Linked DNA regions of Homo sapiens: regions 1, 2, 4 and 5 are each linked to region 3. The links come from fine-mapping of genetic effects on gene expression. A gene starts in region 3. Each other region holds a variant in brackets. All regions are shown on one strand. Distances are between the middles of the regions. Region 1 overlaps SERINC5 (serine incorporator 5). Region 2 overlaps SERINC5 (serine incorporator 5). Region 3 holds the start of SERINC5 (serine incorporator 5). Region 4 overlaps SERINC5 (serine incorporator 5). Region 5 overlaps SERINC5 (serine incorporator 5).

Region 1 (6,063 bases), 62 kb before region 3:
TATGTGCAGGTATTGCTCTAAACTAGGGGGATACGAGCTGTGAATAAAACAGTTTAAAAGTTCATGCTAAAAAGAGCTAACGTTCTACTAGTGAAATGCTGTATGCACAAAACTATGCTCTACTTGATGGATATTTGAAGTATTTTCATGGTTAATTCGGACTAGTCATGATGTTTGCCTTAGGCAGGACATTAGGACCTAATGTTCCCCAAAAGATAGGACTCTACACCAAACCTATAACCTCAAGATTTGAGAGCCCCATTACCTGTTCCCCAGTTCTAGTGATGGGAACCAGTACATGGCAGACATTTAAGTTTCCGGCCCCAGCATCTTTCTTATATCAGACCTGGAATTGAATGATGGTGCCCAGCAGCTGGGGAACTAGGGTGCCCAGACCCTCATTTTCTCCAACCCCACTTCTTCCTGGATCACCAAATGCTTGGTTTGGATTGTTAAAGTTTAGGAGAGGCCATTGTTTTTGACTCCTGCACTAGGCCCCAGCAGACCAGACCGAACCAAAATGAAGCCACTTGTACTAAGTGCCACTGAATTTGGGGGCCAGTTTTCTTTAAAAACAAAAACCAAAAAAAAAAACCACTGAAAGATTCTAGTCAATGTGAGTCTGCCTAATAAGGAAATCCTCTGTTTTAACCTTTTGTTCTGTTTCTGCTTTTTTTCAAGCCTTTTCTGCCTATAAAGACACCCTCCTCTGCTCAGCTAACTGGAACAGTCGTTCTACTTCACATTCTAGAATCACAAATAAAATCCAATTCAACTTTCCAACTAAATTTGTAATTTCGTCCTTTGACAGAATATATAAAAAGATGACTGGCTGGGCACAGTGGCTTACACCTATAATCCCAGCACTTTGGAAGGCTGAGGCAGGAGGATCGTTGCTTTGAGCCTAGGAGTTTGAGACCAGCCTGGGCAACATAGGGAGACTCCATCTCTACAAAAAAAAAAAAAAAAGAAAAAAAAAAAAGAAAAATTAGCCAGGCATCGTGGTGCACATCTATGGTCCCGGTTACTCAGCAGGCTGAAGCAGGGAATCACTTGAGCCCCAGAGGTTAAGCCTGCAGTGAGCCATGATCGTGCCACCACATTCCAGCCTGGGCAACAGGGCAAGGCCCTGTCTCTAAAAAAAAAAAAAGAAAGAAAAAAAAAAAGACTTTTTTTTTTTTAACTTGTAAACAATTTGCCATTTATTCCAAAATGCCATATAGACATAATTACTATTAAACATGTCATACTAATTTATTGCCACATTATTCTTACCTAGTCTACCCACTATGTGGTTCATACAGCCTAGTCAGTTACCTGCAACTTAAGCAAGAACTCTGGTACTCTGAGCACAATGTTCAGGTCACTGACGTTTCCCTTTTGAGAGAGATGGGAGAATAACTGCACATAACGCATATAAGACCATGGAGGGTCTAACACAGGAGTCAGCCAACGACAGCCAGTGGGTCAAATCCAGCTAGCCTCCTAGTTTTATTGGAACATAGCCACACTGGTTGGCTGGCCATGCCATTGGCTGGCATATTGTTTTGGCTGCTTTTGCACTACAAAGGCGAGAGCTGCTACAGAGACCACAGGGCCTCCAGTGTGTACTAGCTGGCTCTTTGTAAGAAAAGTCTGCCCCACCCCTGCGCTACTAGGAAGAATAGATGAGGAGTTGTGGCTAACTGTTAACTGCCTAAGTACAAATGCACATTTCAAAAGCAAGTGACAACTGGTGATAACTTACTCTACAAATCAAGAGCCAAAAGAGCAGCTCCTTTGGGCTGCGGTCCAGCTGTCCCAACCCTCCGCTCCTGCCTTCTCCCATGAGACTCTTCCCTTCCTCAGGGCTGTCCTCAAATGGAACTTGGGCCTTAAGTGAATCAAACTGTGTATCTCCCATATGTCATTTTTTTTTTTTTAGCAGAAAATAAAGTACCTTAATTTATCCACCCACAGAAAGTTTTTCAGATGGGGTGGGAAGGAATGGAGAGAGAATGTGTCTATGAGCTTCCAGCGCTCATCTCTGCGGCTCAGAAGCCATCAATAGCTCGAACAGAAAACGTCCTCACATCTGTCACACAAACACACCCCATGGAACCAAAAATAAACCCCACACTGATGAAAGCCAGCATGTCGAAAGATAATTTTAGATCTATTTGAAGACTGCAGAGACTGTCTCGCTGAAATTTTAAAACCACACCACCAGAATACCCAACCCCTTATGATTATGCTCAGCCCTGATGAGGAGGCAAAAACACTTCATTCCATTTTATAAACCTCCCAGGCACCTCAGCTCTGTCTCTAGAATGGGGAGAGAGCATTCCTGAGTTACCACGTGACTCCGAAGGTCAGCCGAGTCACATCTGAGCCAACACCACTGTCCAATATTCACTAATGGAGTTCACATATTTTTAGCTTTCAGACATACACAGTCTAGCATCACAGGCTCCTTCCAGACACACTTGCCAAACTGCTCTCTTTTCCCCTACCTGAGGGCCAGCTCTATGGGGACAATAACTGTGTGTTACTCAGTGTCTCTGAAATCCCCAGCACCTTTCAGAGTGCTCGCCACTTGCATCTGAAAGAATGACAGCTAGGCAATTTTTTAAACTTTTGAAGAATGAGCTCGGATTACAGTTTAATCAAGTCACAGAATCATCCTATTAAATTTCTATGCAGAGTAAGTATCAAGATTCAGCCATTCACAATATCTATGCATTGTTTCCTGTTCCCATCGCTCTGAGGCTACTTTTTCTTCCATTCTTCGTTGTGCCATTTCTCTGTTCTCTCCAGCCCCATGTTTATGATGGCTGACAATGCTCATTTCCAAAGCTTTTGTCTGTTCTATTTATCTGCAGGCTACTCCGAGGCCCTGTCTGTGGACAGTTGCTTAACAGACGCTTTAGATGACTACAGAAAAAAACGTGTTAGGAAAACTTTCATTCTCACATCTTATCATTCTCTCTCGTCCATAGCCAGACCAATCCTAAAAGAGATCCAGCTGACACCTGGTGCTCCCGCAAACGTGCAGGTAATGGATCCTCACAGACCAAGGACAGTATGTATTGTTTCCAATTTCCTGCCTCCTGGCAAGCTCATTATTACTGGACCAGGATCAAACCTCTTTGTCCTTGGTTCAGGCTCAAAAAAAGACTCTCAGCAG[A/G]ATATCCATTAGTTCAAATTGCTGCCTCCAGTACAAAACGATTTCCCACCACTACTTCCCGACATCCACTTGTATGGGGAAGGATAAGGCCCAGCAATGACAGCTGAGGCATAGGAGGGTACAGGGACTCCTTGCTTTCTCTCACATGTTATCTCCGGATGAAATTTAGACCAAAAGATAAAACCGTTTGGAAACATATGTCTCCAGAGTCATCCTAACTTGGAGGGGAGGGAACTCAGAGGATTTAAGAGGCAAAACCTCAAAGCCAGCTCCCCAGAGGAAAATTCTAAAAGGTCATGGTGAGAATTTTCCCTCAGTTCTACAATGGGCTTGAGGTTCGATGGTCCCAACCCACTTTTAATCTCAAAAACTTCCTCCTTGATAACTTGACACATAAGGTACAACAGTACCATGAACTCAGTTGCTACGCAGAAAGAGAACTTTTGAAAAGCACTCCATCTCAGCTGGATTTTAAAAAAGCATTCCAGAATCAAAGAACTGGGTCAGCAATATTTTCTTGTTATTGTTAATTTGACACTTGTTCTGACACAAAAGCATATAAGCGGAGAATGGAGAGAGTTCTACTTGAGGCTTCAATGTGCCTATGCCAGCCCCTGATGCAGGTCTCAGGTACAGTGTGCTCTGAACATTCAACCAGTAAATATCAAAGGAAAATCAAGAGCCAGACTCTCCAGCTTCAGCATGAAGACCTGTCATTTTACATTGGGACAAACTGCACAGTATTTTGGATCAAAGCGGAATATTTTTCACTGATGATGTTTGTTTTAAAAAGATGGTTATACCAAACACAACCTGAAAACAAGTTCTATTTTACATGTAAAGCCACTGAATAAATAAATACTAGTTTTGTGGCTACCTCTGTTTTCTACTTCAGAATAACAGTCATCCCTTGAGCTCAGCTTTTGGTCATCACAACAGGAAGCAGGCAGATGGGAAATGTAACTAAGCTAAGATCGCTGCTGAGGGCCCCAGGCAGCGCTATTTCCAAAAGTAATACTTCTTACCACTGGGCCCAGAAGAAAGTCTAGAAAGCGGAGGAAGGATATGCTTGATAAAAGGCATTTAACTGTGACTTCTGTGAATATCTGACCAACAAGCAAACCTAGTTGCACAAACAGGAGATGCACTGGCCAGGCGACCAGCAGCCCTGGGTTCTAATCCCAGATATACCTGGTGTCTCAGTTCTGACAAGCCACTTCACTTCCTGGGCCACAGCTCCTCACCTGTCAAACGACAGGTTTGTTAAGATGACCACTTAGGACTTTTCTGCTTTTAAAAATTCTTAACAATGGGCCAGGTGTGGTGGCTCACACCTGTAATCCCAGCACTTTGGGAGGCGGAGGCAGGTGGATCACCTGAGGTCAGGAGTTCGAGACCAGCCTGACCAACATTGAGAAACCCTTTCTCTACTAAAAATACAAAATTAGCCGAGTGTGATGGTGCATGCCTGTAATCCCAGCTACTCGGGAGGCTGAGGCAGGAGAATCCCTTGAACCTGGGAGGCAGAGGTTGTGGTGAGCCAAGATCATGCCATTGCACTCCAGCCTGGGCAACAAGAGTGAAACTCTGTCGCAAAAAAAAAAAAAAAATTCTAACAATGTATTCAAATTATATCCTAAGCAATATATCAATGTAACAAAATTACACTTGTACCCCCATAAATTTATACAAATTTTAAAAATAAATTATATCCTAAAAAGATCATTGTTTTCTCTGTAGAACACTTAACACCACACGTATTTGCTGTCTCTTCTCAAGGCAGAACACTTGCTATACATACGAGCTGCAGCCTTTTTCCACTCATCTCTTTAACTCGCTCCTTTAAGGGGCCTTGTTTCAGGCATTTTTGGATCCCTGGAACCAGTACAAGAAGGGCTTCCCACAAGGAATATTTAATATTATGGCTTCATATTTATTTTAATTCTTCAGTTTAAAAATAGGAAATAAAGTAGCTCATCTCCCCAGTTTCAGAGTTTCAAACATAACGGATCAAAGAACTCTGTCAACTCCAAGAACCACAGAAGTATTTTAACATGTCACTGTAAACAGACTAAAAGATGTGCTTATGAATAGCCTTTGGAAATCCAAGTTGTTTTTAAGTAAAGTAGCCACTGTATTCACCTACAGTCACTACACTGTGGTGACCCCAGAATTTAGAAATAGGGTATCATCTGGGAGAAATGTAGCAAACAGCACCTTCAGCTCAGCCTAACTAACGGGCTAAGTTATCTGGAGAAAGAAGTCTGAGGGCAGCTGGGAACATCTGGGAACTACTCAAGTTCAAACAAGGTAAGTGTAATATGCAACACCAGGGAGGGTGGCATGGCCAAATCACCGTGACTGACTGGAATGCAGAGTGGAAGCCTGAGACTTTTATGACCTGTCTGGGGAAAAGTATGCACAAGATCTAGAAAAACGGGGATGCAGGAAGAAAGAATCTACCAGTGTCCTCAGCACTGTCCTGAGTGAAGGGTGTTTTTACAAGCAGATGCACATATGGGGATGATCAAAGCCAGAAATGAACAAGCTGCCCCAGGGGAAAGCAAGCGAACGGGAAGGGCAGAGGGCAGTGTTAGAGGCACAGGCAAAGAGGAGATGACCACCTCACACACACTATAGCGACTAAAATAAAAAAAAGATGTACCATTAAGTGTTGGTGAGGGTGTGGAGAAATGTGAACCTTAATACATGACTTCATCCTGAATATCCCACATTACTGGTGGGAATGGAAAATGATGTAGCAACTTTGGAAAATAATATGGCGGTTCCTCAAGAGCTTAAAATTACTACACAATCCAGCAATTCTGCTTCTAGATATAAACCCAAGAGAAATGAAAACATATGTCCATACAAAAATCAGTACACGAATGTTCACA
Region 2 (6,603 bases), 110 kb before region 3:
AAAAAACAACACAGTTTTAATTTTAAATTTTATTAAAGTACAGAGTTAACAAGTTTTGAGTTTTTTATATAGGAAAAGCCTAGTCAATTCAGATGCTTTCTAGAAAAATTAACATTAAAAAACAAATAGAAATCCATGACTAAAGGGGGAAAATAACTTTCAAAAGTTACCAAAATTCGAATCATATCAGAGACCATTATAAATTTCAAACAGTAGATTTACCACACATATTGCATTTTCAAATTCTAATGTAGCAAAACGTAACCACATAATTTGGCTACAGCTAATCGTTTCAGAAAAGTTTAAAAAATTAGCAAAGTTATATCTATAAAACTTTTGTAGTTTTCTTTTTGCAAAGTAAAAAGGCTTAAATCTTTAATAAAGGAAAACAAAACAATCCTCTTAAATTTCTTATAAATAGCTCTCCAGACATATATTACAAATCTGCTGTAAGCTTTCTTTACCTGAGAGAACTTCCCAGGATCCTTTATCCCAAAGGATTACCTTAAAGAGTTCTTCCATCATTTTACTCATGTGAATATGATTAAACTCCTATAGAAGTGGATTGGGACATATGCATTCTTAATCTGCCCTTCCCCATTTGTTTCTTTCTGAAAGGATTTTGCTTAAGGAAAAAAAAAGCTCTTTGGTAAAGGCCAAATATTTCAACCTTTCAAAATGACTGCCTCTGTGAAAGAGTTGTTGAGAAAGAAGAAAAGAGAGAGAGAGAGAAAGGTCTAAACATCTGTGTGAACAGCTCTCCAGTACTGTGAAGTCAAAGGCCCAACATTACAGAGCGCACCTCTGCCTGAAATACAAAACTAAGTTAACTAGCAAGTTACAGGAAATAGCCTTCAGTAAATTCCACAAGCCAAGTGGCTACTGCATTGTCCCTGAAGAAGGAGGGCCCAGTGTTCTTTCTGGGTGTGTAAGGTCTTACTTAGTTCAAGGTTTGTCCCTTCTTAGTTGTAGGTTGGGCCCTCTTTCGTTTCCAAGAGGTATAGGACACTAGAGTACACCAAATGAGATACTATTTGGAAAGGCAATAAAGGGAGTGTAAAAGCCTAGGTAGCTTAAATACAGGCTCTGGAATTTCCTTCGCAGGAAGGTGAAGCACCAATGATGGCAAAAATTAAATAAATACATCATCTTAAAAAGGCAGAGGGTAGGCTGCGTGCAGTGGTTTACGCCTATAATCCCAGCACTTTGGGAAGCCAAGGCGGGCACATTGCTTGAGCTCAGGAGTTTGAGACCAGCCTGGACAACCCCATCTCTACAAAAAAATAAAAATCGGCCAGGTGTGATGGGGCAAACCTGTGGTCTCAGCTACTTGGGAGGTGGTCCTTGAGCCCAGGAGGTCAAGCCTGCCATGAGTCAAGATCATGTCACTGCACTCCAGCGTGGCTGACAGAGTGAGCCCGTCTCCAAAAAAAAAAAAAAAAAAAAAAAAAAAGGCTTAGGGTGACAATTTTGACATGGGGACAGGAAATTAACATTACACTGAGGTTATTCATAATAAAGGATCTTCTGAGGAATCGGAAATAAACAATGTTGTATGGAAACAGAACCCCAAAACCCCAATAACTCCACCCTCCCCACAACCCACCCCCACTCTATCTCCCCTTCAAAGAGGCTCCAAATACCTCTGGCAAATAATTTCTTTTTCAGACAAAATGAAGAACCTTTTTGCCCAAGAAACTGTGGGCAAAAATAAAACTAACCAATCAGTATTTAAAAAGCTAGACACAGTAAAGACGTGGTTGGGTTTCTGAAGGCTTATAATGGAAATAGTCTCTAGTCTCCAGTCAGGTAACATGCCGCGGTATGACACTCCCATAAGAACCCCCACCCCCCTGCCACCCACTTAGTGTTTTTACTCATAAAAATGAGGGGAAAACTTTTCTACATCAGACAAATCACACAGAGGAAATATTCACATGCAGCTTTAAAAAAGTCCTCTTCAACTGTCATCCCTAAATGTGTCTGACCAGCAGCTTCTGGGAATATACTCTTTAGGTCATGTACAAAAAGGTGTAGGAAGCAAATGTCTATTATTTTTAAAAGATATCAGTGAGTTAATCAAATTAACACCGTTGTTATAGGAACTCAAAGCCATTGGCACAATGTTTCCAGTTTCTCAAATCACAATTGCACAAAACTGTAGATTCTTTAAATCCAGGAATGTTGACTCCTCACCTGAGTATTGTATATCACAATTAATAACCATTAACATTAACTCTGCATTGATAGTCCCTCAATCCTCAGATACATCCACATCTGTTTTGTTCATCCAGATACACGTGCTAACATTTTCAGCTGAGAATAAAATTCAGAGCAACTGTAACTCTTCCTCTTGCATCAGACCAACCGGCAGAAGGGAACGGGATGTCACAAACCAGACTCACGCATCTGGAAAACGTTGTGTGGCTGGGCTGGCTCCAGAAGGAAGCGACGAGGGCCTTCTACCGGCCACACTCCCTTGCTTGGGCTTCCCTAAGCTGCTTTCTGCAGAGGAAAGGGCCAATCACGGCCAGCCAAGGAATACAAGGCCTTGTCAGCTGGACCTTGACTGCGCGTAAGGTCAGTTTCTCAAATCACACCAGCTGGCAGCCAGACCCAGCCGAGAGGACAAAGCAAGGGCTCTGCTAGACCTCAGCAGGAGGAAAACAATGAAACTAGTCACAATACTGCCCAGGCTCTTTACCTGCTTCCCCTCAGGGTGTTTCCTAAAGACAACCCCCAAGGCCCTAGGCCACTGCAACACAGCTACTGTGTGTGACACGCAGCCCCACTCCCTGAGCCCATTCCTGGCCCACGGAACTCCTGTCCCCTAACTGATTCCTCAGGTTAGAACACGGCTTTTCATTTTGCGACTCCAGATGAATCTTTTAACTGCTGAGTACAGAGCTCCTGCCCTAAAAAAGGAAATTTAATGGAATTTACAAAACAAGGCTCTCTAAACCACACACACAGATGGAGTGCCTTTTGAAACTGAATCTCAAACACTCTAAGTAGGGAAAGTTCTAAAGGAATTCATCCCCTGTAATTTGTTTCCCCATGGGTTTTCTTGGGAGAAGGGCAAAGGAATGAATAGAAAGAATTTCACTAATTTCACCCACCAGCATTTTGGCACACAGAAGCCCAGCTTAGGTGGCACTCAATTCTGCCCAACTCATACAGTAGGGCACAGAAAAAAATGACTAGGCTGAGCCTTTTATTCTTAGATCCTCACTTACAGAGAGCTCGAGAAGATTCTTTCCACCCCGAATGAAATTCTAACAGGAGTTTCCACCAAGTAAACCTTTTCCCTGCCTGAATACATCAACACTGAAAATAGGCATCATCTTGGGTAGCTGCCGAAAGTCACGTTTCTGTATTACTTTGCAAGTACGTATTTTGGAAATTCCTGTGCAGCGTGATCTCGGCTCACTGCAACCTCCGCCTCCCGGGTTCAAGTGATTCTCATGCCTCAGCCTTCGAGTAGCTGGCATTACAGGCACACGCTACCATGCCCGGCTAATTTTTCTATTTTTAATAGAGACAGGGTTTCACCATGTTAGCCAGGCTGGTCTTGCAACTCCTGACCTCAAGTGATCCGCCTGCCTCTGCGCACCTCTTTTTAAGTATATTCGGCCACTTCCACACATTGCCTAACAAGCTTCTTCTGGTCAGTGTGTCTGAGATCCTCACCTCAGAAATTCTCACATTAGCAAACCTACTCCAAGGATGCCAGCATGAACCTGAACGGTATGGTCACGTTACAGATCCAGAACACAAAACGACTTCCGCTTTTACAGTTTCAAAGGCCTCAAGGTGGAGAAAAAACTGAGGGGCTGACCTCAACAACTGAAAGAGCAGTGCATGCAGCAGGCTTCAACACGAAGCAGCTTTTCAGTTAAGGTCCTAAAAGTATTATCATTATCAACAGCACAAACAAGTAAGAATGATAGCCCTCCATTGCTTAGGCAGAGAAAACATGAATCTTGTTCTATAATCATGTGA[A/C]TAACACCATAAATAAGCGCCGTACTTATTGCAGTAACTCGGATCAGGTAGTGATAATAAGGTGGGGAACCACCTGGGGGGTGATCAGACAAATTGTGCTTTTTCACATTATTACAAAGATGTGGGACCCAGAAAAGATGAGACCTCGGGGAAGGGTGCAGGCAGAGAGTGAAGTCTGTGATTCCCAGCATCACAACCTCAAAGGGAAACGTTTAGGGGCCGTGAAGAGGCAGCACTGAGGGTGCAGTTGAAAAGCAGGTGCCTCCTCTTGGACCCTATAAATACCAGGGGCCCTGCAGGCTGAGTCCTGTCCTCAAAGCCCCCTGGGGACAAGGCTCTAAGAGGCGGAAGTGAGTGAGAGGGGTCTGGATTCTGTTAGGCGCTGGGGACTCAAGATTTTGGCATGTTTTTCTATTCCGAGGATGAGAATGACTGGCCCCACAAGATATTTTTATCCCTGTGAAAAGATGCTGTGCCCCAAATTCTGTTTTGGCAAAAACATGCAGAAGGAAGTCAACATAACTGGTATCCAGTTCCTAGGGGTAAGATATTTCAACCATGATCAGTTTGGTTGAAAATTTCAATTCCTTTGGGACAAACTGGTAGTTTCTTTTTGAATTTCAAAAGTAAAAAGCTAATCAGGAGATTTTTTTTTTTCTCTCTCAAAGCTTTTTCAGACCCACTCAGGCACAGGGCGCCAGTCCCTGCCCCGGGGACACTGTTCAAAAGATGGCACTTTCCAGGCTGTAGGCCCACAAAGCCCAGGGGACCGCCGATATCATCACACAGAGAACTCCCGGGTGGGGCAGCAGAGGGGAGCGACCAGCGTACACAGGTACAACAGCACGCATATCCAGCAGGAGGCCATCTTGACCCAGAAGATGGACCAGCTCCCGCTGAAGAAGCTCTCGATGTTGGCACTTTCGTAGCTGTGGAAACAAGACACCTAGCCGCGGTCAAAGCAGGAATATATTGAGATACAATTCACTAATTCACATCCATTTATAATGTATAATTCAACGGCTTTCAATGTATTCATACACAGACTTGTGCTACCATCAACACTACCCATTTCCAAACATTCTCATCACCCCCAAAAGAAATCATGCACCCCTTAGGTGCTCTCCCCTTCCCCATGGCCCCCTCAGCCCACCCCCCGCATTCACCAATCTACTTTCTGCCTCTATGAATTTGCCTATTCTGGACAGTTGATATAAAAGGAATCACATGGTCTCTTGTGTGTGGCTTTTTTGCCTGGCATACAATTTCCAAGGCTCAGCCACGCGGCAGCATGTGTCAGTCCTTCATTCCTTTTTACTGCTAAATAGTATCTTATTGTATGGATAGAGCACATTTTGTTTAGGCAGTCACCAGCTGATGGTCATTTGGGATGTTTCCCCTTTTTGATTATCACCAATGATGCTTGTATGAACACCGCTGTGTAAGTTTTGTGGACCTAGTTTTCTTTTTGTCTTAGGTATACGCTCAGGAGTAGTGGAAGAGCTGGATTACATTGTAACTCAATGTTTAATTGTTTAAGGAGATGCCAAACTCTTTTCCAAAGCAGATTTCACATTCAAACCAGCAATGTAAGAGGGTTCCAATTTCTCCACTTCCTCGACATTTGTTATTATCTGCCTTTTTAATTATAGCCTTCTCCATCTTTTCTTAAGCTTTCCAAGCCAAAAATTCCCAGGAGTTCCCAAAGCATCACTGGGAAGCATTAAAGCTCCCTTCTCCTCTCCTCCTTCAGGAAGAATCTCTCCAATCACTGTGCTTGAAACCACCACTCCCACCACCCCTACCCCAATTCCCTCTCCTAATTTTATTTTTCTCCCCAATACTCATCACCATCTAACACACCATATTTGACTTGCGTCATAGTCTGTCTCTCCTGCTGGACTATAAATCCTGCCTCATAGAACCGTGTGGCACATAGGAGCCACTTGCACATCTGTTGAATGAATGATAAAAGGAAGCACAATGAGCCTACATGTCTAAGCTTAACTTAGTGGTCAAAAAAATTATGATACAACCAAAGCTGTGGACCTGTAGAAAAAGTATGAACCTCTGTGTAGTGCCAGGGAAGGCCAGGTCAATCATGTACTGCCAAGTTAAAAAAAAAAAAGCCTCCAGGGGAAAACATGTATAATGACATTTATGTTAAAAAAAAAATTAGCTGGACATGGTGGATCATGCCTATAATCTCAGCACTTTGGGAGGCTGAGGCAGGTGGATCACAAGGTCAGGAGTTCGAGACCAGCCTAGCCAATATGGTGAAACTCCGTCTCTACTAAAAATAATAAAAAAAAAAATTAGCCAGTGTGGTGGCAGCACCTGTAATCCCAGCTACTCAAAAGGCTGAGGCAGGAGAATCACTTGAACCCAGGGGCGGAGGTTGCAGTGAGCCGAGATTGCGCCACTGCACTCCAGCCTGGGTGACAAAGCAAGACTCCAACTAAAAACAAAAAAAAACTACAGAGGTTTATAAATGCACAGAAAAGGAGAAGGATACACATCCTAGCAGTGGTTATCTGTGTGGGGGAAGTAGAGGCGGGGGGGTACCACATTGTTACTTTTCATAATTCCACATTTAGTTTG
Region 3 (6,272 bases):
ATCATCACATGTAATTTTCCCAATAACCCTAAGAAGTACCCATTCAATAGTTGAGGTAAAATGAGGTCATAGAGGGTAAGTAACTCATCCAGTCACACCAGTCCTCATTGTCCAGATTTCCAAATTGAAACCCAGGCCTGAGTCCAAAGCCCAGGCTCTTTTATGGGTTACATATTGTTCAGGATGGTCCGCAGTTAAAGAAAGTCACCAAAATGTCTCTCTCCGACCTCAAACTTCTCCCGACCTAAATACCTAATTGGTGACTTGCCATTTCCATTAAATTTATAATAGGCATCTCTAATGTAACGAAGCCAAGAAACTTGGGTTTTCCTCACCAAATGTCCTCTTCCTAACAATTTCCTACTTCACCTCAGTAATGCGATCATCATCTACCCAGTGGCTCAGGCCAGAAACCGAGCCTGTCTCATTCCCACATCCCACTTCTAATCCTTGCTCAAATCCAGTTCTACCTCTGAAATATACCCAAAGCCAATGATGTCCCACTGTACTCACTCCTACAGCCATAGCCTAAATTAAGGTACCACGCTGTCTCCTCCTGGGACTACAGCAACAGCAGATTGCCAGGATTCGAGCTCCATCAGGAAAGGATTTTTGTTCACTGCCGAAGCCTAGAACACTGCTTGCCCCTAAGAGGCAAATATCCACTTAGGTTTTCCTCACCAACTGCTTCATGACCAACTCGAACTGCTTTCCTCACCTCCACTCTAGCCCGTTACAGTCCAGTCTTCACGACATCCCAATTATCTTCTAAGTGCAAATCAAACCACAGCTCGCCCCTGCTCAGAATCCTCCCACAGCCTCTCACTGCAACCAGAATTAAATCCAAAGTCCAAAGGCAGCTGACAGGTTCTGGCCATTTCTGGTCCTGCTCTTCTCTCTGACCTCATCTAAGACACCCCAGCCACCCTAGACTCCCTTGCCTCTCCTCACTGAGCAGTCTCAACTCCACAGGCATCTTCTCAGACTCCCTCGGCAACCCTCCTCAAGGCTGCTTACCACACGGCCTTCTGACAGTACCAGTACCATATTCATTGTTTCATTGTTTACATGTTTATGAATGATCTCCCCTGCCCAGATAGGCCATTGAGAGCAGAGATGCTTGTCTGACTTATGACTATATAGCAGGCTCCTGGCAAAAGGCAGGTGCCCACAGAAACAAACAAGAATTGGTAACTTCTGACGGTGCTGTGAGGTTTTGTTTGCTTTCCTTTCTTTTGAGATGGAGTTTTGCTCTTTTTGCTCATTGCCCAGGCTTGAGTGCAATGGCGTGATCTCAGCTCACCACAACCTCTGCCTCTGGGTTCAAGCGATTCTCCTGCCTTAGCTGTGTAGCTGGGATTACAGGCATGCGTCATCACACCCGGCAATTTTGTGTTTTTAGTAGAGATGAGGTTTCTCCACGTTGGTCAGGCTGGTCTCCAACTCCTGATCTCAGGTGATCCGCCCGCCTCTGCCTCCCAAAGTGCTGGGATTACAGGCATGAGCCACTGCGCCCAGCCTGTTTGCTTTTCTTTTAACTTCCTACCGCCCCATCCACAGGAAATCACAGTGTGATCACCATCACACAGCACTGAGGCCCACCACAGTGATGCCTCCAGCAGGCCTGGGAAAGCAGGGGTTAACTTTGATTTGGTTCTTTCCAAAGTCCTAAGAGGGGAGACTTTAGAAACCTGCTAAAACATCAACAGCAAAATAATTCTTTTACAAAACCCATTTGAATACTGGTAATTACAGAGCTCTAAATTAGGAACTTGGGAATGGCAGAAAGAGCCTCAAGGGGACTTCAAGGGACCAGGACAGATGCCCCTAAAGAGCTGTATCATTACTACGTAATAAAAAGTGTCGCATCATATTGGAGAAAAAGTATTTCAAAACGGGAATAAAAGATTTGCAGAGCTTTCTGAAAACAGTCTTTCCTGGTCCACCTTGTTCTCAAATACCTGGTAAGGTGGTGACCATTCTCATTCTCTTTCTCTCTCTGCCTGACACAGGGAAAAAAAATCATTTCGTCTCAGTCGTCAAAAGCCTCAATTTCCTCAACTCTGAAAAGGCCAGCTTTAATGTATGCCAAGCACAGTATTAGACCTCAAAAACCAAGACAGCTCCACGTGGCCACTCTAAACAGGACAGATTATCTGCCAGTATAATCGCCGGTTACAGAAACCCACAGTTTAACCACTCCATCACTTACAGCTGGCCTCGATTGTGGAAAGGCTGAGTGTCAGCAAGAACACCCCGAACCAGGATGCTCCCTAGAGTCTGATTCGTTCGTGAAAACACTCCATTAAAACTCTGTACCGAAACGCTGATAATCCACATGTAAAGGGAGAAAAGAGCTCCACATCCAAGAGACTCACCTACTTCGTTTTTTCTAACTCTGCAGGAAGGAGTGAAACCAGCATTACAGGGCTAAGACGTACTAATTCTACACTGATGCAGTAACTGGTAGGAGACATAATGTTTTAAGACATCATAGGTTTAAATAGGCGAGAGTTAAAAAACAGGTTCGAACAAGTTTATTTGCAAAGAGAGGCAGGAAGGTTCCAGCCCTACCCAGGCAGTCGTGCTAGTACCGAGCCAGGGTTGGGTCGGGAAATTCAGGAAGCAGGGCTGAGTTTTCCCTTCGCCCAGACCTGCGCCCGGTAGTTTGGAAGTCAGGCTTCGAGACATTCTCAAAGGTACAGAGCCCACGCTCGACTACGAGATGCCAAGCGCAACCTGCCTGGGTTGTTTGACCCGAGTTTTATTCAGGGCATAGCAAAGGAGACGGTGCCTAAACCCACTTTTCTTCCTGGATTCATCCGACAAGCAGAGTGGAGAGGGCTACGGAGCTCAGCGCTATTCACCAGTGCTCGGCGCAAGAGGCGACACGCCCCTGGAGCAGTCGGGATCCTCCGCCCGAGCCCGGCACGCCCCGCTCCACGCGGAGTCCCGGAGGCCGGACGGGAAGACCCCGGGGTAGCCTCTCGGGCTTCCCCCTGCCCCTTCCCGCCCGCCCAGGGCACAGGATTTCCCGGACGGCTGAGCGCCGCGGGGCCAGCCCGAGCGACCCACCCGGGCCCTACGTTCGGCCGCGGAGCTGGGAGCGCACCCAGGCAGGTCCTCCACGCCTGGACTCCTGGCCCGGTTCTCCGATCTGACAACCCCCGCGCTGCGCCCGGCCTCGCTCACCTGGCCCGCACAGCACTGAGCTGACATCGCGGCGGCCAATGCCGAAGGCGCGCTCGCTGGCTCCCCGCGCCGCACGGGCCCTCCTGGCTGCCTCGCGCCTCGAGCGCTGGGCTCAGCCGCAGCTCACACTTGAACGAAGATCAGCCTCGGCGAAGCGCCTAGGCGCCGAGGCCTGGGTAAAAACAACTGCGGCCAAGCCCCGCCCCGCCGCCGGCCCCGCCTCGCCCGCCCCCAGCCCCGCCCCGTGCCCGCCCCTTCCCGGGCGCCCGGCGGCGGAGCAGGCTCGACCCGGGCTCGCACTTCCGCTGGCGTCAGGCGGGTGGGCTGCTGCGATCACTTCCCGGTTGGGGCGCCGAGCTCCGGAGTCGGCCGCCAGCCTTTGGGCCCCACGCTCCGGGTCTGGTGCGCGGTCTGGCCGCGCTCGGGCCCTCGCCAAATGAGAGCGCAGCGCCTCTCCGCCTTCGGATCCAGAGAAAGAGCTTGTTGCTGCCTCTAAAAGGTTGGAGCCTTAGTAAGCGGTTCCTGCCTTTCCTGCACAGACCAGACCGCCGGGTGCTGGTCTGCGCTCTGCCGCGCGCCGACTGGGACAGCCCACCCACGAGATCCTTGTTCCTGAAATCCCTTTCCTTCCCTCATCTGCCAAGAAAACTTTCAACTTTTGGGCTCTCCGCGCCTCCCAAGCTTCCTCGAATCCCTGGGCCCTTGACTGTTCTGCCCTGATGGCACTTGGTGAGAGATCCATTGAGAGCCCTTTCCGTGCCTTCCTGAATATTGATATGTTTTCCAGCCTCTCCTCCTGCGCTGGCCCAAGGACTCATTTTCCGTCCCTGCTTCCTCACTAAAAAGAGGGTGCCCAATAATTGCTTGTTCCATACAGAAGGCAGGGAGGCCGTCTCTAGGTTTTCTCCCACTCAGATCTGCTGTCCTCACAGCCACCTCCCCAAGAGGAATGAAGGTATTTCTTTTTTTTTTTTCTTTTTTTTCTCTGAGACGGAGCTTCACTCTGTCGCCCAGGCTGGAGTGCAGTGACGCGATCTCGGCTCACTGCAACCTCTGCCTCCCGAGTAGCTGGGATTACAGGCGCCTGCCACCACGCCCGGCTAATTTTTTGTATTTTTAGTAGAGACGGGGTTTCACCATCTTGGCCAGGCTGGTCTCGAACTCCTGACCTCAGGTGATCCGCCCGCCTCGGCCTCCCAAAGTGCTGGGATTACAGGCGTGAGCCACCGCGCCCTGCCGGAATGAAGATATTTCTGTTAGTGCGATTTTTGCGCCAATCCCTTTGCTCTTTCAAATAAGCATTACCGTACCCATTTTAGCGGTGAGGCAACTGAAGCCCAGAGAGGTTAAATAACTTGCCCAAAGCCTCACAGCAAAGTTGAGGAAGTAAAACTGGGCCTGGAATCCACTCGTCTGATCCCCTGGCACATGACGCAAGGCTTGACCTTAGAGGGACTCGTTTCCAGACAGAGCTCTGGCAAAGGAGTGTCTTGGGCAGCTTAGGAGTAGAAGAGGAAAGGTGAATGGAAACCAGGCCTTGGGTTATGAGCTGCGCAGGATTTTCCAGCATCTCAGATGCAGGCGTTTAGAGAAAGAGATATAATGGAGCAGGCCCTACTCAGAGCCACGAAAAGGAATGAGGACAGTTGGCTCTAACTCAAAACAAAAATAGGGTAAACCCAATCAGTCAAGCGCAGCAACCTGCTCCGTGGCGATCTGTGACTCATCAGAAGCTGAGGCTCTCACCAGGACTTTCTAATGAGCTTCGCTGTTGGCTACGACCGCGGTCACTTCACTTCAGCCCTACTCCTGGCCTGGGGAAATGGGCAGGCCCCCTAGTAGCTCGGGGTGGGGAGACGGGTGGAGAGGAAGGAGGGGCGAAAAGGGAAGGCGCGAAATCTACAAATGTTTAAGCCAGCTGGAACTCCGATGCCTCTTTGCCTTTTAGGGAAATTGACTCGACTCGGAACTCGAGGACCTTTCACAAGAGACCACTGGGTTAGGGGGCAGAGCTGGTAATAGAATCCAGCGCTCCGAACCCTGAATCATGTCCTCTTTTTGCTGCTGAGGCTCAGGCCACAGCACCCCAAATTATGACTGTAGAATACCAAAATATGCTATCCCAAAATACACTTGTTTGGCACATTTCAAGCTGGTTATTCTGAGAAACTGCAGACACGGGAGTAGCTCTGAAAAGCTGTCCTTTTGTAAAGCAAATTTACATCTATAAAGGAAGTCCACATAGTAAAAGTATCTGTGTCAGGAAGGCAGCTGCTCAGAGAACTTTTATTACATGAGAGACTTTACATAACAAGGCAACTTTTTTTTTTTTTTTTTTTTTTTTTTTTGAGGCAGAGTCTCGCTCAGTCGCCCAGGCTGGAGTGCATTGGCATGATCCCGGCTCACTGCAACCTCCGCCCCCCGGGTTCAAGCGATTCTCCGGCCTCAGCCTCTGAAGTAGCCGGGATTACAGGCGCGCGCCACCGCGCCCGGGTAATTTTTGTATTTTTAGTAGAGACGGGGTTTCACCATGTTGGTCAGGCTGGTCTCGAACTCCTGACCTCGTGATCCGCCCACCTCGGCCTCCCAAAGTGCTGGGATTACAGGTGTGAGCCACCGCGCGCAGCCACAAGGCAACATTATTTACCATACATTTCCTCCACTAACCCTCCTATATCCTACCTGTGGTGCCTCCCCACTGTCCCCACAGAAGCCCCAAGCCCTTATTTATTTCTAGCTCAGAATGCTATAAGCTTCAATCATCTGGCCCTTCATGTTTTGTGAGATTCCTGTGCTGCTGCGTATGCAGGTAATTAAAACGGTTTTTCTTCTGTTAATCTGTCTTATGTCGGCCAGGCGTGGTGGCTCATGCCTGTAATCCCAGCACTTTGGGAGGCCGAGGTGGGCGGATCACGAGGTCAGGAGTTTGAGACCAGCCTGACCAACATGGTGCAACCCCATCTCTACTAAAAATACAAAAGAAGTAGCCGGGCGAGGTGGTGCGCACCTGTAATCCCAGTTACTCAGAAGCTGAGGCAGGAGAATCGCTTGAACCCAGGAGGCGGAAGTTGCAGTTAGCC
Region 4 (6,603 bases), 100 kb before region 3:
ACCTTGGCTCACTGCAACCTCTGCCACCAGGGTTCAAGTGATTCTCGCGTCTCAGCCTCCCAAGTAGCTGGGACTACAGGTGTGAGCAACCATGCCTGGCTAATTTTTGTATTTTTAGTAGAGATGGGGTTTCACCATGTTGGCCAGGCTGGTCTTGAACTCCTGACCTCAGGTGATCCACCCGCCTCGGACTCCCAAAGTGCTGGGATTACAGGCGTGAGCCACCACACCCGGCCAGCATTTATTTTTCTATACAAAAATCTTTCCTCAGCAGAAAAACAGGATCACGGAATGCAGACTGATAAAGACACAAACACAAAAGGCCCTCCTGAGAAATGGATCTTCTGAGATGAAGCAGGACAGGAAAAGGAAATGAACTTACCTCCAATTCAGGAGCTGCGTATCGCCCCTGCAGAGCGTCAGAACTCGATCTTGTTGTTGATGTCAAACTAAGAAACAGACAAAAACGTCAGCTGGGCATATTAACACATTACAACACATGGAATGAAGGGGAAAGCCGGCTGGCCAGTGCTCCGACGAGAGCCTCAATGTAACCTACCGTTCAGGAGACTTAAATCAAAGCAATCTATTTTAATACCTCTCCTTATTCCAAAATTGGCTGGCTTATTCTATAGTTGATATCATTTTACATGGATTGCATTAGATCATTTTATGCAAAGAAGGTTGTAGGTAGAGAAGTAAGATATCTTGGTTTTCAGTATTGCTTTTTGCCTCTCCTCCCTCAAATGCTACAATAGTTTTCTAATTTCAGTTTATCTTTCCCTCCCTTTGACTAGTCTTGCTTAGAGGGAATCAAAAGCAACGAGCCCAGAGATGGCAACAGAAAGCAAGGGCATGAAAGCAAAAGTCGCAGTTATTTACTGTGATAGCCTATAGTAGAACAAGGCTTGCTGTTTGGAAGAGTAGCAGTCGAGGTAATAAAAAATTCTGCCACTTCCCTGAGACCTAGAAAGGTAAAATGTTAGACAAATTGCCTTGCATGGGGCAAAATAATTTATTTTTCCTGAAAACAAAAACAGGCCAGAAGTGGTGGCTCATGCCTGTAATACTCTGAGAGGAAGGGGTGGAAGGATCACTTGAGGCCAGGAGTTTGAGAAGAGCCTGAGCAACATAGCAAGACCTCATCTCTACAAAACAAAAACACAGAACATTTTAAGCAAATATATACAATACTTAGGGTTCCAGCTAACTTTACAGATTGATTTAGCAAATATTTACTGAAGGCCACTATGTGTCAGGCCCGATTCTAAGCACTGGGGACTCAGTGACACAGGCAACAATCCTGCCGTCATGTAGCTTCTGTGCTGGCCTGACATGGGCGGGCGTGTTGGTGCTCAAGAAGCTGGTCTGCTCATGGAAAGGTGGGGACACACACTCATCTCAATCCAGCGAACCCCATGAGGCAACACTGCGCAGTCTCATCCTCTTTCCCAAGGAGAGAGATCAATGAGACAGAGATAAACAATAAAAAGCTTTCTCATACAGAAGCCCACTGAGATCCAAGTTCACTGTTTCTTTTGTGGTCCACTCAAGTACAACAGCATCACTTTCATTTCTGCTTTGAACTGATGCATGCTAATCCAGGCCCATGCCACTCCACCTCCTGACTGTGTGCCTGGTCAGAGGAAGACAGAAACATCTCCCAATGACTGCGCACCCAAGGAACACAACACCTAATCCGACATTTAAGAGTGGCCCGGCTGGGTGTGGTGGCTCACACCTGTAATCTCAGCACTTTGGGAGGCTGTGGCAGGTAGATCGCTTGAGCCCAGGAGTTCGAGACCAGCTTGGACAACTTGGCAAAACCCTGTCGCTACAAAAAATACAAAAATTAGCCAGGTGTGGTGGCACATGTCTGCAGTCCCAGCTACTGGGGAGGCTGAAGCAGGAGAATAAATTGAGCCTGGGAGGTTGTAGTGAGCATGATCACACCAGTGCACTTCAGCCTGAGTGACAGAAGGACCCTGTCTCAAAAAAAAAAAAAAAAGAGTGGCACATATCCTGTGCATACAAGTTTTGATTTAGTACAGTGTATAGTTTTCACAGGGGAAAAGATAAGTTTTTAATTTTAAGAAGAGATCACTATCTGAAATTTTCATTTGAAAGGTTAACATTCATTATTTATGAGGCTCAGAATAGGCCAGGTGCAGTGGTTCACGCCTGTAATCCCAGCACTTTGGGAGGCCAAGGCGGGTGGATCCCTTGAGGTCAGGAGTTCCAGACCAGCCTGGCCAACATGGCAAAACCCCATCTATAGTAAAAATACAAAAATTAGCCAGGTGTGGTGGCCGGCAGCTGTAATCCCAGCTGCTCAGGGGGCTGAGGCAGGAAAATTGCTTGACACTCAGGAGGCAGAGGTTGCAGTGAGCTGAGATCACGCTACTGTACTCTAGCCTGGGCGAGAAAGTGAGACTCTGTCTCAAAAAGAAAAACAAAGCCTCAGAGTAAATATTCTACTCTATAAATTCTTTGGGTTAACGTAATTTCCGGAAAACAAAGCTCTTGATTTGGGCTCCTTTGCCACTTCACCATCAAAGAGGCCTAACATGGGGAAGCTTTTGATTTTACTTTTAAAAAGAACTACATTCAGAGCATCATTAATGCCATGTGACTTCTACAGGTAGATGTTACCCTACATTAAGATCTTTATTCAGTTGCCGGGCGTGGTGGCTCACATCTGTAATCCCAACACTTTGGGAGGCTGAAGCGGGCAGATCACCTGAGGTCAGGAATTCGAGACCAGCCTAGCCAACATGGTGAGACCCTGTCTCTACTAAAAATATAAAAATTAGCCGGGCATGGTGGGGGGCGCCTGTAATCCCAGCTACT[C/T]GGGAGACTGAGGCAAGAGAATTGCTTGAACCCGGGAGGCAGATGTTGCAGGAAAAAAAAAAAGATCTTTATTCAGTTGTAGCCTTTCTCCATACAACACTCTTCTTGGAATTATCAAGAAAAGGTTTTTTTTTTATAAGCTCTTAAAGCCTAGGAAATTCTTATTATCTGCATTCAGGCTATTACAAAGACCACTGTTTGGTGAGCACAGCACAAATTGCTATAAAACAATTCCTGGGTTACCTATAAGCCTTACCTCTTCCTGTGCTAAGATAGGTGTGACTTTAACCCAGTATTTCCCGTGGGGATAGGAGGAGACTTACAGCATTGGGTTAAGACAATGCTTTATTGTACGGAGAATGCCTAACACACCACAGCGTGTTTACTGTCTCTGCCTGCTGCCACCCCACCCCAACCCAGCCAAAATGCCAGCAGTGCTCTGCAGTCATGGTGACAGCCAAAAAAAAAAAAAAGAAAAGCCGTGTCCTGTTTCCCTGCAGAACCACTACAGTGCCCAGAACCCCTTCACACTGGCAGAAGAATGCACAATGCAGGTGCCCCTCAACACTGGCACTGCAGATGCTTTTGAAGCTGGCCAAAGTCCACTAGACCACAGAAAATCTCTAAATAACACGTCCAAACTTTCCTGGAGATCACACATTCCGCCTCCCTGACAAACGTACAGGGTAGGCCCTTGACAGATCCCGTGACTATTCCCAGCCTTTGTGCAATGATGAAGATCAGTCATGCTCCCCTGTGCTATAGAACCCAAAGGAGACCTGAGCTCTCTGTGAACCTGGGGCATGGGGTGGAAGATTTCTTTTTCTTTCTTTCCTTTTTTTTTCTGGAGATGGAGTTTCACTCTTTTTGCCCAGGCTGTAGTGCAATGGCTCGATGTCGGCTCACCACAACCTCTGTCTTCTGGGTTCAAACGATTCTCCTGTCTCAGCCTCCCGAGTAGCTGGGGTTACAGGCATGCACCACCATGCCCGGCTAATTTTGTATTTTTAGTACAGATGGGGTTTCTCCATTTTGGTCAGGCTGGTCTTGAACTCCTGACCTCAGACGATCCACCCGCCTTGCCCTCCCAAGGTGCTGGGATTACAGGCGTGAGCCATCACGCCTGGCCACGGGGTGGAAGATTTCTAACTTGGAGATTTCTAGCTGGCAGGCAGGCCAGAGCAGAATTCCCAAAATGAAGACACAAATCTCCCCCTCTCCTGGTGGGGAAGATACAAATTTCCCCACCCCCCCATAAAGGCCCAGAATGTACCAAAAAAATAAATATTCTTCCTTGATTTCCCAACTTTTTTTAATGTAGAACAATCCCCTCGGCAATGCTATCACACCAACCTGCGAACCTCCCCACTTCAAACTAGGAAGTTGTTTGACATTGAATAAAGATTCTTACTTTTTCCAGTTTTATATTTAAAAGGATATTTTCAAAGATGGTTCAATATTAAGAATTATTTTTTCTCTTAAACACAGATAAAAGTGGAATGGTCAGGAAACTTTATAGTGCAAATGCCTTGTAATAATATAATTACGCAAGTCATCCAGTTTATCTTTCTCCCTCAGGGGACATTACACCAAGCCATCTGAAGAAAAAGAGCCGGGGAGAGACTATCCACCAGTGTCCCTAAATACTCCCGAAAAGGAGCCTCAAGGAAAGGTTGCCCGAAGTTGGGAGTAGAGAGCTACAGGTATAGGCTCCATGCTTCCTTACATGTACAATGAGGAGACTGACCTGATCAACTCTGGGATCCTGTCCAGGCTGACAGTCTGAAGTTGAAGGCAACAGAATAACAATTTCAATCAAAATCCAGAGACCAAGGGAAGAATTAAGAAATAGTTCGTGGAGGCCAGGATTTGTCACAGCAAAGCTCCAGACTAAAGGGGTGTGGAGGGATGCGCCTATAGAAAGAGCCATCAGGGCTGGCCATGGCGGCTCACGCCTGTAATCCCAGCACTTTGGGAGGCCAAGGCGGGCGGATCACCTGAGGTTGGGAGTTCGAGACCAGCCTGACCAACATGGTGAAACCCCGTCTCTACTAAAAATACAAAAATTAGCCGGGCATGGTGGCGTGGTGGCACGCGCCTATAATCCCAGCTCCTCAGGAGGCTGAGGCAGGAGAATCGCTTGAACCTGGGAGGCGGAGGTTGCAGTGAGCTGAGATCCTGCCATTGCACTCCAGCCTGGGTGAAAGAGCAAAACTCCGTCTCAAAAAAAAAAAGGAAGAAAGAAGGAGAGAGAGAGAGAGAAAACCATCAGAATGCCAGGTGTCATGGTTATGCCTGTAGTCCCAGCTACTTGGGAGGCTGAGGCAGGAGGATCCCTTAAGGACAGTTTACCCAGCCTGGGTAACATAGTGAGAACTTGCCTTAAAACATTTTTTTTTATCTAAAAAAATAAAAAGAGCTATCAGAGAACTCCCACAAGTGGACCAAGGTTAGGGCTTACATGGGGTCCAAGCTATGATGTTCTTTCACAGCAATGATTCCTGGGTGCAATGGAAGGAGGCTCTGGAGAGAAGGCAGCCCCAGGCAGAAAGGCAGGGAGTAGGTTTGGGTTGAGCCCTTCTTCTGAGCTGAGGCTACAAACATTAAAACATACTCCTAGAGAGTACCCCAGCTGCAAGAGTCAGGATGGAGATACCCCAAAGGAAACAAGTATTTGGGGGTGGGGCTTGGGGGCTCTGGAGGGCGAAGGGAAAGAGAGGAGCTAGGGAGATTTCCAGTCTTCTACAACTTTACAAGAGTGGACCCCAGGCAATCTTGGCCTTCTTCTCCTTTTAACTTACATACTATCTATAGTCTCTGGCTTCCTGCAATTTCTATCAAGAATCCTAGATATTCCTGCAATTATGTTCAAATGACAGTTCCCACACGGACGATGTGGCCTTTTTGTAACATCCTCCAACCTTTCATTCCTCTGAGTCAGGAAGGAAAACAAACTCTTCAGAAGTCCAGATCTGAAAAAACCCTAGTTGGGCTAACTCCCACCCCTACAGCATTCCTTTTATTCCCAGGCCCTACAAAGCCTGAATTTAGTGTTCTTAAAGCTGACCCCTCGAAGAGCTGCAGTGAGTAATTACAGCAAACATCAATCACATGGACCCCGGGGGAACTAACTCCTAGGGGGCCCAGCCCACAGAGTGTGCTCTTGCCTACAGATTACAGAAGTACGCTACAGAGCAGAGTGGTCATCCTCATCTCCACTTTGTAGGGGCTGCAGTTTTATATGTTCTCATCCCACCATACACTGCAGTTTTGTGGTTTACGAATTCAATAACAATGTTTGTTGCTGGTATTTAGACAGATTTTTTTTTTAGTAGCTATCAACTTTGAAAATTGACATCTTTTGGGAATATCAGACCAGCCCTTACCAATCTCCACTATGGTACCTCAGTCCTGTAAGAAACAACATTTTATTTATCATCTCTCACTCAAGGGCCAACTCAGAAGAATTCTTTACACCTGCTAGAAATAGTGAGAAAATATGATAGGGTGAAAATTCCATGTTGTGAAATGCCCTATGTGTGGTAACCATTATGCAGCAGGCTAAGAAGAATTTTTGCCATCTTTTCCATTGAAGGGTTTATGGCAAATCCAAACTCTACTTTATTTAAAGGGTTTTTTTTTTCTTTTTTTTTTTTTTTTTTGAAATACAGTTTCTCTCGTTACCCAGGCTGGAGTGCAATGGCGTGATCTCAGCTCACTGCAACCTCCCCCTCCTGGGTTCAAGCAATTCTC
Region 5 (6,603 bases), 73 kb before region 3:
GAGATTGCACATTTCCCAACTTGGACATCTAATTTAAAGGCAAAAACCCAATATCCTGTTTTAAGGTACATCTTCCTTATTACTAGTGAGATTCAGCATCTTTTCTCAAGTTTATGGCCATCTGTTTTTTTTCTCTGAATTGGCTGTTAATTGGGTATTTTCTTGATCCACTGGAGCTCTTTATTAGTGGGTCTTAATCTTCTGATAAATGTTGACAATAGCTTATTCTAGCCAAATTAGAAGACTTCCACATGAAATAATCAGTTTCATTATCAGAATAATTAAAATCTTACACAATGAGAACAAGCAGCACATTCCTAGTAATGTCATAAAATAAGGATTTGGTCAGTCATAAAAACTTGCTTCTTATCAACATCAAAGTTGAACACTCTTCTGAACAGAAAATAAATCACATTATAACTATTATTCATAAGAAAAATAAAGTATCACAGAGAAAAAATAGCACAAAACTGAAGGTAAAAGGAAAGTGTGATAAAGAAGATAATTTACAGTTTCTTCTCCAGAAAAAGATACTGAAGAAACAATAATATCTGTGGCTATCACGATTTCCATAAACAAATGTCAACCCAAATGAGAGACTGAGGCAAGAGTCTCAATGGGGAATAATTAAGCCAGAGCTTGAGGGGCTGCTGAGAAACACACAAATCACAGAATCCTCTGTGGCTGGCGCTCCCAAAGAGGTTGCTCGGTATTTACCCATTTCTTTAAAGGGGAGAAGGCATGCAGGAAAAGGGGGCAGGTGGTGAGGCAAATGCAACATTCTCCTGAGATTTTAACTAGTGCCCAGTAAACTCCGCTATAAAAGAGATATGATAAACATTCAAAAAGGGAGTAAAGGAAGAGTTAATTATGTAGTCTCAGGGTAGGCAGAGAAATGACTGCTGTCCTGTCTTTGTTCTGCACCTGGGAAGATAAGCTTGTAATGGGCATTGTCAGTGTGAAATGTAACAGACTGCAATTCCGTGGACAGGGAGCTAGACTTAGATTGCAGACCTAAAGTTACAGCTGACATGTCCTTTTTTATGGGAAGATACACATCTTGAAAGGTTTAGGGACCAGCAGAGAATTTACTTATGAGCAATTTGAGGGCAGTCATCCGGGATGCACGAGGCCTTCTGCCTTCTCCAGGGGTGTGGCTAATGCATAGCGCTTTGACACAAGGTTGGGAAGTCGCAGCTATCTACTGGGCAGGGGGGCAAGGTGCGAGGGGACAGCAGCAGTGTCACGTGACTGTCTCTCCAGTCTTAAGTTTCCATTTGGCATAAAGAGTTTGGGCAGTCCTGAGAGGGTTTATTTTCCTTTACACAAACAAACAAAGAGTTCCATTTTCTCCCCACTCCTTTTTGAGACAGGGTCTCACTCTGTACCCAGGCTGGAGTGCAGTGGCGCAATCTTGGCTCACTGCAACCGTCGCCTCCAGGGCTCAAGCCATCCTCCTACCTCAGCTTCCTGAGTAGCTAGGACTACAGGCATGCACCACCAAGCTCAGCTAATTTTGTGTGTGTGTGTGTGTGTGTGTGTGTGTACAGTTGGTGTTTCACCATGTTGACCAAACTGGTCTCGAACTCCTAGACTCAAGCAATCCACCTGCCTCAGCCTCCCAAAGTGCTGGGATTACAGGTGTCAGCCACTGTACCTGGCCAGCTCCATTTTCATGAAGACATGTGAAAGACTTCATGAGGAAATAGCCAACATTTTGTTTTCAGCAAATTCCTAAAACTGTACATTTTTTATGACTTTTTTTTTACACCATTTTGTCACAACAGAGACAAGATGTTTTGCTTGATAAAGACTGCATCCAACCAGATAAGTAGATAAACAAGCACAGTCTTCAACTATCAGTCCTCACTGGAGGACTCTGTGGCCATAAAAAGGGTAGGTACGGTTCTAACTCGTGACAAGCACCTGGCATCTGCCCCGAAGGCTCTGCCCACATCAAAGACTGTTTCTTGCACAACCAACCAGATTAACCAGCCCAGACCAGGAAATTCTTTTTTTCTTTATTGCTCTCCCTGGACTACTTCATTAACCCTTTTCCTATTCCCTTTCTCTTAATGTTAAATGTTATTTTGTTTGTTGCACAATGTTTAATCAGTAACATTTATATATTGACAGAGTATACGATTGTGTACGGTTTGCAATACTGACTGGCTGGTGCAGAGGCTGGAACCTGTGTGCCTGCAGATCTAATGAGTGGATGAGAAGTACTAAGAAGAATTGGCTCCCTGGGAACTCCACATAGCTGGTGGCTTTTGTAACTGAAATAGCATCAGTTAAGTCCAACATTATGGAAAGACACAAATGTTCGTGGACCTGGTTACCTCTGACCTTGGCGTCACTCACAAAAACCAAGATATGCCACCCTAAAACATTCTTCTTTGCGTATTTCAAGCTCGTTATTCTGAGAAGCTGAAGACACAGGAGTAGCTCTGCAAAGCTGCTGTTTTATACAAAAAATTTACATCTGTAGAGGAAATCTACATTAGTAAAGTGTATCAGACGTTTATTCACCATACATTTCTTCCCCTCACTCTCCCATTACGTGTTGCCAGCAACTCCCAGAGGCCCCAAGCCCCTATTCCTCTCTGTAGCTCAACATGCCATAAGCTTCTATCATCTGACCGCCCCCCCCCCCTCCGCTTTTTTTTAATTGAGACCTCTGTTGCCCAGGCTGGAGTGCAGTGGCGCAATCTCGCCTCACTGCAACCTCTGCCTCCCAGGTTCAAGTGATTCTCCTGCCTCAGCCTCCAGAGTAGCTGGGATTACAGGCGCCTGCCACCACGCCTGGCTAATTTTTGTATTTTTAGTAGAGATGGGGTTTCACCATGTTGGCCAGGCTGGTCTTGAACTCCTGGCCTCAAATGATCCGCCCACTTCAGCCTCCCAAAGTTCTGGGATTACAGGCGTGAACCACCATGCCCAGCCTATCTGACCCTTTTTAAAATTGCTTTTTCTCCTGTAATTGGTCTTATGTCAATTTAATTTGCTTCCAGAGAAAGAACCTAGAAGAGTGGAAGGAAGCCATTTTTCCCTTCTCTACAAAGGCAAGGTCTTGCTGGGAAGGGCCAGGTGCATGCCAGACTTAGCAGTCAGGCCCCCATCCTGTAAGCAAGGGGAAAAGCACTACTGAAGCTAGAACACCTTTGGCTACAAAGTGGAAGACGTGGTGAAAGGGTACAGACTTGAGGCAAGGGGACAAGTTTGAAGGCCACTGGGAACAGGTGAAGAAGGTAACCCCAGGCAGAGAAACCAGAGATTCTGCAGGTAGAGCTCACAATTGGCAGGAGAGCACAGATGACAAGAATGAAGCACAAGAATGAGACAAAGCTGTTTTGTTTTCTTCTTTTTTTATGGCATTGCCGTTTGGGGTGGAGGGAGGGTGGAGGGCAGAGGACAGACAGCAGAAGTGAAGAACAAAGCAGGAGTTTGCTCTTTAACACCTTAGGGCATCACCAAGGGGTATCCCAGCGAGAACAGTCTGGTCTGGAAATTGCTTTAGAACAGCAATTGGGGCTGGATACAGGAAGTGTCAGGCCTCTGAGCCTAAGCCAAGCCATCTCATCCCCTGTGACTTGCACGTATCCCCTGTGACTTGCACGTATACGCCCAGATGGCCTGAAGTAACTGAAGAATCACAAAAGAAGTGAAAAGGCCCTGCTCTGCCTTAACTGATGACATTCCACCATTGTGATTTGTTCCTGCCCCACCTTAACTGAGTGATTAACCCTGTGAATTTCCTTCTCCTGGCTCAGAAGCTCCCCCACTGAGCACCTTGTGACCCCCGCCCCTGCCCACCAGAGAACAACCCCCTTTGACTGTAATTTTCCATTACCTTCCTAAATCCTATAAAACGGCCCCACCCCTATCTCCCTTCGCTGACTCTCTTTTCGGACTCAGCC[C/T]GCCTGCACCCAGGTGAAATAAACAGCCATGTTGCTCACACAAAGCCTGTTTGGTGGTCTCTTCACACCGACGCGCATGAAAGGAAGCACCCGCAGGCGGGTAATGAGAAGTCAGTCACACAGGTGCTTTCTGGAGGAACCTCAATTTTTAGCTGTGTTTAAACATGAGTGATGAAACAGCATGGTTAAAATTTTCAGGTGCTGAAATATGGTAGGGGACACACACAAAAATGAATGTTTCAGAGAGTCTAACCCAAAACAAAAGTTACACCTGTATGAGTAGTGCCAGTAACGAGGAGGTAATATTGCTTTGAATCTCTAAAAGCTACATTCATGGAGAAGCCATACCACTTCATTCATTAGGCTGTTTCATTTACACAGGATTTATTGCTCTAAAACATTCCCTAAATTATTTTCTTCCCCACCTTCTCTCTTCTACTCCATCAGCAACTCTAATTCCTGAACCACATCTTCCCCATAACACATGCACATTAGCACCTCTTTCATCTATACCAGCCCATCTTTCACCTTTAGACCTTCTCTGCCTCCCTACCTCTTTTTTCTTCCTCCAAAATCCATTTCAAGGAGAATGCTAACAGCAGCAGGCTGAGCCACCATCCCCAACAAATCCCCTCCCTTGTTTGCTTACTCCAGAATCTGGAATGCGGCCAGGGCCCTTTAAGGCTCATCACAGGGTGAGTACATTGACACTGTATATTCATCAAAAACAGGTAAACAACCCCCCTGCTCCAAATCCTAATCAAGACCTCCTTTATACTCTGTGGGTGACTTAGCACATTTAGTTTTCAGTATGTGGTAAGTATTTTTGGGCAAAGAACCTCCAAGGTGAACAAGCTAGCAGGATTCTGGCAAGGGGAATTTGCTCCGATTAAATATTTGCTGTTCCAAAGTCCACCCCATTTTTGGAAAAAGAAAAAATACATCACATACAAATTCCACACCACAGGGTGAAAGGAATGTGCCTGCTAAGGGTGTTACCTCTTAAGTCTGGCTCTGGGCACCCAAGGACAGGGCACTTAAGCCAGGCTCACACACTGTATGTTGTTTCTTTTTTTTGATGCAGTCTTGCTCTGTTGCCCAGGCTGGAGTGCAGTGGCGCAATCTCGGTTCACTGCAACCTCTGCCTCCCAGGTTCAAGCGATTCTCCTGTCTCAGCCTCCCAAGTAGCTGGGATTACAGGCATACACCACTATGCCCAGCTAATTTTTGTATTTTTAGTAGATGGGGTTTTGTCATGTTGGCCAGGCTGGTTTCAAACTCCTAACCTCAGGTGATCTGCCTGCCTCGGCCTCCCAAAGTGCAGGGATTACATGCGTGAGCCACCGCATGCAGGCTGTATGTTGTTTCTATACAGACCCCTGAGAACAAGGCGTTTCCCTCCAACCCTCAAAGCAACCAAACTCAAAGCCACAAACTATCAAGTAAGAATAAACAGCTCATAAGACTTCCATTCCTAACTCCACTGCTAACTTGAGCTAGCTACACACATACACACCCTGAGCCTCAGTTGTGCCATCTGTAAAATGAAACAATACCGACACCCATTTCATGGAGTTGCCTGAGAATTACATCAGATAACACCTGTGAAGTGCTTACCACGGTTCCTAACCCATAGTAGTCATTAAGTTAACTTCTTTAATTCTAAAGCACTATTATGTTATATTTCATGCGCGTCCGTGTGAAGGGACCACCAAACAGGCTTGTGTGAGCAATAAAAGCTTTTAATCACCTGGGTGCAGGCGGGCTGAGTCCGAAAAGAGAGTCAGCAAAGGGAGATAAGGGTGGGGCCGTTTTATAAGATTTGGGCAGGTAAAGGAAAATTACAGTCAAAGGGGGTTCGTTCTCTGGTGGGCAGGAATGGGAGTCGCAAGGTGCTCAGTGGGGGAGCTTTTTGACCCCGGATGAGTCAGGAAAAGGACTTTCACAAGGTAATGTCATCACTTAAGGCAAGGACCGGCCATTTACACTTCTTTTGTGGTGGAATGTCATCAGTTAAGGCGGGGCAGGGCACATTCACTTCTTTTGTGATTCTTCAGTTACTTCAGGCCATCTGGGCATATACCTGCAAGTCACAGGGGATGCGATAGCTTGGCTTGGGCTCAGAGGCCTGACATTATATAAAAATAATTTCGGGGAAGAGACTCAGGTACATTACATGATCCACAAACTAATGCATTCCGATTTAAACATGGTGGGAAACTGAACATCTTAGAATTAGTAGATGCTCTATTCACTTTACCAAAGGATCTACTACCTTTGGATTGAAAGATTAACTTTCTTGTTTTGAAAAAAAAAAAAAAAAAAAAAAAAAAAAAGACAGAGTTTCACTCTTGTCGCCCAGGCTGGAGTACAGTGGTGCGATTTCAGCTCACTGCAACCTCTGCCTCCCAGGTTCAAGTGATTCTCCTGCCTCAGCCTCCCGAGTAGCTGGGATTACAGGTGCCTGCCACCATGCCTGGCTAACTTTTTGTATTTTTAGTAGATATGGGGTTTCACTATGTTGGCCAGGCTGGTCTCGAACTCCTGACCTCAGGTGATCCACCCGCCTCGGCCCCCTAAAGTGTTGGGATTACAGGCGTGAGCCACCGCGCCCGACCTGTCAGTAAGGTGAATCTTTCCTTGGTACATTTATATTAGAACTGAGGTCCAAAAAATAGCACTC

Evidence for each region. PIP is the estimated chance that this variant, and not a neighbour inherited with it, causes the effect.
Region 1: its variant is the best candidate, but not a certain one, in a credible set for the expression of SERINC5 in prefrontal cortex (ROSMAP, PIP 0.82).
Region 2: its variant is the best candidate, but not a certain one, in a credible set for the expression of SERINC5 in sun-exposed skin (GTEx, PIP 0.50).
Region 4: its variant is the best candidate, but not a certain one, in a credible set for the expression of SERINC5 in whole blood (TOPMed, PIP 0.89).
Region 5: its variant is the best candidate, but not a certain one, in a credible set for the expression of SERINC5 in T cells (TOPMed, PIP 0.54).

Annotation. Positions count from the first base shown.
Region 1 is chr5:80,190,527-80,196,589 of GRCh38, forward strand. The region is part of intron 2 of SERINC5 (serine incorporator 5); the gene reads right to left. Among named protein-coding and RNA genes, the nearest start is that of SERINC5, 62 kb to the right of the region's middle. RefSeq lists enhancers at 1,239-1,810, 1,811-2,381, 2,954-3,524. The variant A/G (reference allele first, on the strand shown) is at 3,167.
Region 2 is chr5:80,138,880-80,145,482 of GRCh38, forward strand. It overlaps SERINC5 (serine incorporator 5), which reads right to left. Exons shown (of 12, transcript NM_001174072.3): 12 at 1-4,931. The coding sequence ends at 4,784. Among named protein-coding and RNA genes, the nearest start is that of THBS4-AS1, 59 kb to the left of the region's middle. The variant A/C (reference allele first, on the strand shown) is at 4,003.
Region 3 is chr5:80,252,704-80,258,975 of GRCh38, forward strand. SERINC5 (serine incorporator 5) reads right to left here and starts at 3,345. Exons shown (of 12, transcript NM_001174072.3): 1 at 3,193-3,345. The coding sequence starts at 3,219. RefSeq lists silencers at 2,828-3,107, 3,218-3,657 and enhancers at 3,511-4,444, 4,445-5,378, 5,379-6,272.
Region 4 is chr5:80,150,500-80,157,102 of GRCh38, forward strand. It overlaps SERINC5 (serine incorporator 5), which reads right to left. Exons shown (of 12, transcript NM_001174072.3): 9 at 383-449. Among named protein-coding and RNA genes, the nearest start is that of THBS4-AS1, 70 kb to the left of the region's middle. RefSeq lists an enhancer at 1,475-1,974. The variant C/T (reference allele first, on the strand shown) is at 2,851.
Region 5 is chr5:80,179,900-80,186,502 of GRCh38, forward strand. All of the region lies in intron 2 of SERINC5 (serine incorporator 5), which reads right to left. Among named protein-coding and RNA genes, the nearest start is that of SERINC5, 73 kb to the right of the region's middle. RefSeq lists enhancers at 3,234-4,054, 5,699-6,520 and silencers at 3,868-4,162, 4,428-4,722. The variant C/T (reference allele first, on the strand shown) is at 3,921.